Regions from separate parts of the Homo sapiens genome. Here all the other regions are linked to region 2. The links come from fine-mapping of genetic effects on gene expression. A gene starts in region 2. Each other region holds a variant in brackets. All regions are shown on one strand. Distances are between the middles of the regions.

What was found. PIP is the estimated chance that this variant, and not a neighbour inherited with it, causes the effect. A credible set is the group of variants that fine-mapping cannot tell apart.
Region 1: its variant is the best candidate, but not a certain one, in a credible set for the expression of MAN1B1 in vagina (GTEx, PIP 0.81).
Region 3: its variant is the best candidate, but not a certain one, in a credible set for the expression of MAN1B1 in skeletal muscle (FUSION, PIP 0.58).

The regions. Positions count from the first base shown.
Region 1 is chr9:137,109,291-137,111,939 of GRCh38, forward strand. It overlaps DPP7 (dipeptidyl peptidase 7), which reads right to left. Exons shown (of 13, transcript NM_013379.3): 10 at 2,583-2,649; 11 at 2,400-2,464; 12 at 1,590-1,660; 13 at 1,256-1,493. The coding sequence ends at 1,358. Among named protein-coding and RNA genes, the nearest start is that of DPP7, 4.1 kb to the right of the region's middle. The variant C/T (reference allele first, on the strand shown) is at 1,217.
Region 2 is chr9:137,085,302-137,088,137 of GRCh38, forward strand. It overlaps MAN1B1 (mannosidase alpha class 1B member 1), which reads left to right and starts at 1,684. Exons shown (of 13, transcript NM_016219.5): 1 at 1,684-1,917; 2 at 2,774-2,836. The coding sequence starts at 1,699. MAN1B1-DT (MAN1B1 divergent transcript) reads right to left here and starts at 1,516. Exons shown (of 1, transcript NR_027447.1): 1 at 1-1,516. RefSeq lists silencers at 1,038-1,267, 1,818-2,047 and an enhancer at 1,608-1,837.
Region 3 is chr9:136,915,111-136,917,610 of GRCh38, forward strand. It overlaps TRAF2 (TNF receptor associated factor 2), which reads left to right. Exons shown (of 11, transcript NM_021138.4): 7 at 1,431-1,505. Among named protein-coding and RNA genes, the nearest start is that of FBXW5, 28 kb to the right of the region's middle. The variant CAGCACCGCAT/C (reference allele first, on the strand shown) is at 1,117.

The DNA of each region.
Region 1 (2,649 bases), 24 kb after region 2:
CTGGACTCTAGCTGTCCCCTGCTGGTGGGCAGGGAGAGGCCACGGGGAAGCTCCGTGTCCCTGGCCCCACGGGGCAGATGCTTGGCGGGAGGCATCCTTGCGCCTGCGTTTCACACAGGGCCTGTTTCCCTGCAGGGCTGGCACTGAGGCGCACAGCTGAGGGATACACGGGCCCTCAGGTCAGGCAGCTCCCAGCAGCCTGGCATGGCTATGGCCCCGAGCCCTGGGCTGTGGTGGCAGAGTTGTCCTCATCATCACTCTACTGCTGTCCCTATCCCAGGGCTGACCCTGGGCCTTGGCTGGGTTCCCCCCGACCCTGAACCAGGTGACCTCTTAGGACCACGCCCCCTCGCTCTCCCCTGTGAAAAATCCATCACCTTCACTTCCGGAAGACTCCCCTTCCCTGGGAAGCCAGAGCCGGTGGCGGCACAGGGCAGGGCTACCCGGACCCAGCCCAGGATTGCCAGCTCCGCCCCTCGGGACGTCCGGGCCCCGAGTGTGGGCCTCGGCTCTGCCTGTCCCCACAACCCCCAACATCCCACAGCAGCCACCTGTGTCCCTCTGGGGACAGTGGGCACCCTGGGGCTTCGTCTCCCACTTCATGCTGGGCCCTGATCCTGCACTCCACCCTCTGTGCCTGGAAAGGTGAGAACATCGGCTGTCATGTGACCCTGGCGCCTGCCCCTTGTCACGGTGGGCCCAGCACGGCCCTAGCCTGCCCCTTGTCAGTACCACCCTAGCCCGCCCCTTGTCACGGTGGGCCCAGTGCTGCCCTCCTGGACCAGGTGCCCCATGGCCGGCTGAACGGGCAGGACTAGGGCAGCAGGTGGGGCCTCAACAGCCGGAAAAGGTGCACCTTCTCCATCTCACCCAGACCTCCGAGACTAACGTGCTGGGGGCGTGGTCCCAGAGGGTGGAGGGACAGCAACTGCATGCCCCTTGGGGGCCAAAAGCACTGTCCAGTGGCCTCCCCTGGAGGGGTCGCTGTGTACAGAGGATGTCAGGGAAGGAGTCACCTTGGAGGTGTGGCTGCAGCCTCTGTCTGCTGCGGCTCAGCAGAGCGGGGCTTCCTTGCGGGGCACTGCCCCCCGCTGCCCTAAGGAGCAGACCTGAGCGTTGTGGAGCCTCTACCTTGTGGAGCACATGGCATACCCGGCCTGTGTGGGGTGCGCCGCGTCCCCAGCCGTGTCTCCGAGGGTCCCGCTCCCACAGCCTG[C/T]GTGTGGGCCCCACAGACAGGAAGGACGGGACATACATGGCCAGGCCTCCAGGCGTTTATTCAGCCCCTTCCCTCTGCCGCCAGCTGCTTGAGTGAAGCCCCCACTCCATGAGGAGCCTTGAGACCCCTCCAGTCCTGTGCTCAGAGGCTGAGTCTGGGCCCCCCACGCAGAGCTGGCTGCTGCTCACGCCTGGCTGCCTTTACCCACTCGCCGATGATGGTGGCCTCCAGCTTCCGCGCCTCAACCACGGAAGCAGGATCTTCTGGGTGGGAGGCTCTGGGGAGCGGGCACAGAGGGGGCCCGTCAGCCCCAGCCCTCGGTGAGCCTGTCCCGCCCGACCCGCGACCACCGCCAGGCCACCTCCCTCCGCACCTGAGGTCGAGGTGGTGCGCTCCCCCCTGGATGGTGACGGCGATGACTGAGGCACTCAGGTTCCTCCGAATCTGTGGTCAGTGGAAAGAACTCCATCAGGTGAGGAACGAGGCAACTGCCCAGCCTCCGTGGGCCCATTGGAGAGGAGACGTGAGAGGGCGAGCCGAGACTCAGTGCCCATCAAGCAACCAGAGAGAACCAGCCAGAGACGGAGGTGGGAAGTGACGAGATGATGGGGGCAAAACCGGGTGAGACAGGAGCAGGGAAGGGGCAGGTGTGAGGCCTGTGATCCCAGCACTCTGGGAGTAAGACAGGAGCAGGGTAGGGGCAGGTGAGGGGCCTGTGATCCCAGCACTCTGAGGGTGAGACGGGAGCAGGGTAGGGGCAGGCGAGGGGCCTGTGATCCCAGCACTCTGGGGGTGAGACGGGAGCAGGGTAGGGGCAGGCGAGGGGCCTGTGATCCCAGCACTCTGGGGGTGAGACGGGAGCAGGGTAGGGGCAGGCGAGGGGCCTGTGATCCCAGCACTCTGGGAGGCCATGCGGGGAAGATCGTTTGAGCCCAAGAGTTCGAGACCAGCCTGGGCGATATGGTGAGACTGTGTCTCTACAAAAAAATATTTTTTTAAATTAGCTGGGCATGTTGGTGAGCGCCTGTAGTCCCAGTTACTGGGAGGCTTGAGCCTCAGAGGTCAAGGCTGCAGTGAACCCTGATCTCGCCACTGTATTCCAGCCTGGGCGCCAGAGAAAGACCCTGTCTCAAAAAAAAAACAAACAAACTAACGGGGTCATAGGGCCCAGGCCAGGACTCACCCCGCCCCCTGCCCAGGGGTCCAGGTTCCCGTTGGAGAAGATGATGTTGCTGGCGGCTCTGAGATCTGCAAGGGGCAGAGAAAGTTGTGATGTGGGCCCCTCACGGGGGCTGTGAGCCATGGGCAGGGGGTGCAGAGCTCGGGGCAGAAAGCAGGACGCTGGCCCACCCCCCCTCAGCCTTACCACCCCCCCAGAAGCTGGTCAGCAGCCAGTCGGGCCGGGGCCACACGCCCCAGGTGTCCAGGCAGTA
Region 2 (2,836 bases):
TTGGCCTCCAAAAGTGCTGGGATTACTACAGGCATGAGTCACTGTGCCCCGCCCACGGGAAATTTCTTTTTTTTTTTTTTTTTTTTTTTTGAGACAGAGTCTTGCTCTGTTGCCCAGGCTGGAGTGCAGTGGTGCCATCTCGGCTCACTGCAACCTCCACCTCCTGGGTTCAAGGAATTCTCCTGCCTAAGCCTCCCGTGTAGCTGGGACTACAGGTGCCTGCCACCAACCATGCCCTGCTAATTTTTTTGTGTTTTTTGTAGAGACGGGTGTCTCACCATGTTGGCCAGGCTAGTCTTGAACTCCTGACCTCAAGTGATCCACCTGCCTCGGCCTCCCAAAGTCCTGGGATTACAGAAGCCACCGCGCCTGGCCCCAAGGGGAATCTTTTAAAAAAGAGAAGTTCCCATAAACTGCTTTGAAACCATAAAGACCAAAGGTTAGAAGGGTTTGCCGCAGGCGCTCCGTTGCTAATGTTTTTGTGAGGGCTTCTTCAGGGCCTCTTGTTAGAGTGTGACATAAACGACTTCATTTGGGTACCAGCAAGTGTCACAGGGGGCAGAGACCAGCAGAAACCTAAAGATGACCCCTAGAAGAGCAGGAGGCCAGGGGAACAGAGTTAGACGAGCCACGTGCTAAGCAGGACGTCGCTGCCGGGGGAGCTCTCCAGACACGCAGAAATGCCACAGTCAGGACCGTGGGACGCAGCGGATTCGCCCAAGGGCAGGAGCAGCCTGGCCAGGAGAGAATGAAGGAGGGGCCGGGCGTGAGGTTCGGCTGGGGAGAACCCAGGCAGGGAGGGCCTCGGGCGGCCACGGACGCCGCTTTGCCATTTTGGGCGTTTCTGGGGAGGACAACGCGTGCAGGAAGCGCAGTCATCTCAAGCTGACCTCCAAGGTTACCGAGTTCGAGGGCTGGGAGCCGGGTCTGAAAGCCCCGACCCGCCTATGGCGCGGGGACTGTGGGTCCAGCCGGCCGATTGGCCGCCTCGCTCGGCGCCGGTCCAGGCGCAGCGCTCGGGCCCCGGGGACCGTGAGATGCGGCGCAGCCAGCTTAGCTCGGGGTAGCAGCCACCCCAGCCCGGGTGCCGCCCGGCCTGGTCCGCGACTTCGGGAGGGTCCGGTCCTTCCCCCGGCCCCCACGCCTGGGTGAGGCCCTGGGCTTCTTGCCGGTGACCACGCGGCCAGGGTGGGCACCAGCCCAGGACGGCGCCCAAGGGCAGCCCAGCTCCATCCCCGCGCCGCGGGTTCCGGAACCGAGGCGCGGGACGCTGGGACTCTCTGCCAACATGGCGGCCCCGCCCGGGCGCCTCCCCGGGTCCCTAGTGTCTGCGTCTCCCGTGAGGGCGTGGGCAAAGTCGGTGCAGCCAGACGACAGGAGGCGAGAGAAGCCCAGCTCCAGGCCCATGAGGCGAACCACGTGGGAGCCCCAGACAGCGACCACGCCCCAGGCGAACCAAGGCCCGCCCCGTTGCTACAGCTACGCTCGTAGCACACCTGGGCAGGCGCTGCCGGACGCATGCGCAATGAACCTGAGGGCAGGGCGGAGTCGCAGCAGTTGTCTGACGCAGTCGCCGTAGGACGCAGCCCCGTACGCTGGAGCGCAGCGGAGACAGGCGCGGGCGCACTGGCCGCATAGAGACGCAGCGCACGCGCAGTCGCGTATCCGTGTGATGGGCGGGCTGTTGACGGCGCTGCGATGGCTGCCTGCGAGGGCAGGAGAAGCGGAGCTCTCGGTTCCTCTCAGTCGGACTTCCTGACGCCGCCAGTGGGCGGGGCCCCTTGGGCCGTCGCCACCACTGTAGTCATGTACCCACCGCCGCCGCCGCCGCCTCATCGGGACTTCATCTCGGTGACGCTGAGCTTTGGCGAGAACTATGACAACAGCAAGAGTTGGCGGCGGCGCTCGTGCTGGAGGGTGAGGGTCGCGCCGGGCTGACTGGGGCCCGGGGCTGCCGTGCCCGCCGCCCTCCCAGACTGCGGCTCCGAGCGGGACCTGGGCGGGCGGACTCGACTCCCCAGGCGCCGCCCTCTCCACCCCTTCCCCGCAAAAAGGGGCAAATGTGCGTTCCTGGTTGGGGCAGCCGTGGGCGGCTCGCCTGCAGCGGTCTCAGCGGCCCAAATTCTGCGGGGCGGTGGTGGGAAGAGGGCTCAGAGCCCCAGCAGGTTTTCTGGGCTTCGTTCGCTTTTCTGCAAGGTCCTGGCCCAGGCGCCTGCCCCTCTTGGAGCGGAAACCGGAGGTTCCCCGTGGTGTATGCTCCCCTCGGTACAGTGAGAAATGAGCCCCTCTTGATTGGCTCCTGGTCTGTTCGTGGTGGTCTCAGGCCGAAGGGCATTGATAACCACATGCGGACTGTGCATCGCCTGGGCGGTGCCTGGGCTACATCTGTGGGAGTCGCAGGAGTCTTTCTCCACTGTTGATGAAATGTGACAGAAATGTTTCTGCTTTTTTCTTATCCTCGTCTCATCTGCACCACTGTATTAACGACATCTGTAGTATTGTCCCAGCAATGTTCCTACTCCCTGCTGAGAGGGAACTTCTCCCCATTCAAAATAAATAGAGCTGGCCGGGCACGGTGGCTCATCCCGCGTTCCACCCACTACACTCCAGCCTAGGTGTAACAGAATGAGACCCTGTTTCCAAAAAAAAAAAGAAATAGAGCTGAACACTGGATCTTCCAGAAGAATTCCTTATTGTCCTCACAGTTTGTGACAGTTGAGACGTTCCGTGTGATATATTCAGTAAGAAATGTCATTCTCTGTACCTCCCTTAGAAATGGAAGCAACTGTCGAGATTGCAGCGGAATATGATTCTCTTCCTCCTTGCCTTTCTGCTT
Region 3 (2,500 bases), 170 kb before region 2:
AGAGGTTGCGGTGAGCTGAAATCATGCCATTGTACTCCAGCCTGGGCAACAAGAGAGAAACTCCGTCTCAAAAAAAAGTTTTGTAATTTTGTAAAATGGTTACATGGCACCAAAGCGAAAACTACAAAAAAGGTGCATTCTGAGACGTCAGAGGGAAATGTGTCAGGCTCCCCGTCCGCAGCGCCGTGCGGTCGTTCAGAAATTTGCATTCCCATAAGCATTGTGGGAGCACCGTCTCCCGAGACTTGCCAGCACAGTGTGGTGTGAAGGTTGGACGTGCCACTGTGATGTGTGAGAAACACATCAGTCCTCTGTATCGGGGGTCCACGCCGTGGATCCAGCCAACCGTAGGTTGGAAATGTTCAGGTAAAAATGCACTGAACACGCGCGGACATTTTTTATTGACACAGCGTTCACGTTGTATTGGTCATGAGTCACCGAGAGCTGATTTCAGGTATGAGGGAGGGTGTGCTTAGGCTCTGTGCAAACACTCTGCCATCTTCCATCAGGGACTCGAGCATCCTTGGGTTTCAGGGACCCTGAGACCAACCTCCTATGGGTGGCAAGGGACAGCAGAGCCTCGAGGCGGTTCTGACGGGCGTTTCCCAAGCTGTGGTGTGACCGAGCCCATCTGTGCTTCTCTTGCTGTTCATGACTCCTGCCCACTGAATAGTGTTTTTGGTTTTTGTTTGTTTTGGGGGAAATTGTTCAAGGTTCTTATGTGACTGTTTCTGGAAACTGATTCACAGTTACGGCCGTTTCCCTCCTTCCGGGTATGAAATCTTGTGCTGCGTCTGGCATGTGTGGGTTTGGTTTTCTCACACTCAGAGCCGCGACACACCTGCCATGTCACCTGGGAAATGGAGGAGGAACTTGGGGTTCATGTTTTTCCTCGGGCTGTTCCTGCATCCATAGACCCATGTCAGATACCACAGTGTTAGTCTCTGTTTCTTCCCTGGTTCGATGTTCCTGTTGTATGTGAGTGTCTGTGTGCACTTGGCCCCTTTCTGGATTTTACGTTTTGCTTCATGTCGTGTCTGTGTCATCCTGTACCACCACGCACCGGGTGAGCAGTGGGCGTTTGATTCTGGGTTTTGAACCCAGGCCCTGAGGCCT[CAGCACCGCAT/C]GTCCTGTGGACTGTGATAGAGGGACAGGCGTGCCATGTGACACACAAGCTGGGGTCTCCACAGGTGTCCCGAAATGCTTGCCCATCTCAGTTACTGGCACAGTGTGCATGTTTGCACGTGTGTGTGCACAGGTGTGTGAGCGTGTCGCTTTGGAAATGGGCTGTTGGGTTTCATTCAGTGTGAGAGTGAAGAGGCCAACGGGGCAGGTCATGTAACCTCTGTGTCAGTCAGTGTGGTCCATGTGGAAGTGCTGAAATGCATCAGAACAGAGAAAGATGGCTCTGTGACGTCACTCCCTTGTAGTTTCAGGACCACGTCAAGACTTGTGGCAAGTGTCGAGTCCCTTGCAGATTCCACGCCATCGGCTGCCTCGAGACGGTGAGTCGGGGGGTCTGAGGTTGGGGGCCACCCCTCATCCTGGGTGTGGTCTTCACTGCCTCCAGCCCAGTGCTTCCTGGTTTCCTTCCAGCTGCTCCTCAGCCACCTCTGCAGCACTGCCTCCTCCTGCCCCGGCTGTCCGAGTGTTCCCAGCTTGGTCTCTGGGCTGGCAGCCCTGTCCACTCCCTCCTGGTGGCATTGTAGTGCCTGGCTTTGACTGCCACCTGTCTCTGAGGATGCCCAGTGTGTGTGCCCACCTGTCGCCTTGAGCCTCCCTGGGTGTTGAGTGCACGTCTCAGATGTACCCGGCCGGCTCGCCACGACCACTCCTTGGCCGCTGTCTCCCTGCCCCCATCTCACACAGAAAAGGGCAGCACTCTAACCCAGCGGCTGTCGCTGAGCCCTCCGCCACCAGCAGGCACTCGGGCCCCTCCTCTCGCCTCATGCTTCACGTTCGGGCTGACAGAGGTCTCGTCTACCCTCAAATGGTCCCCCCAGCCGTCACTGCCCTGTCCACATCATCCTCATCTCTCACTGGGACCCAGGCTCAGGCGCTTATGGGACCCCCGTTCTTTTCCGTTCTGGCCTGTTCACAGATGGAAATCGATCACAGCTCTTCCTCATGGCTTCTCATTCAGAGTGGCCTGCTCCTGTGATCTTTCCCTCCCCTCAGCTATCTCCTCTGCCCTGCTCGCTGGCCTGAGCTTCCTTGGGCATGCCCACTTGTGCCCACCCCAGGCACTTGGGCACTGGCACAATGGCCAGGCGCCTGGGTCTCTCCAGGTGGACCCCCCTGCTCCACCCCTGCAGACTCTGCCCCTCTGTCGCCAGCACCTCGTGTCTTTGTCTCTTGTCCGTCTTGCCCTGTACAACAGGAGCCCCTTGAGGTCAGGACCCTCGAGGAGTACTGGGCCCAGAGGTGGTCCCCAGCTGAGGTGTGTGCCTGATGGATGGAGAGGGGCAGGCCGTGGGTGCAGACCCTCCCCTGGCCAGCT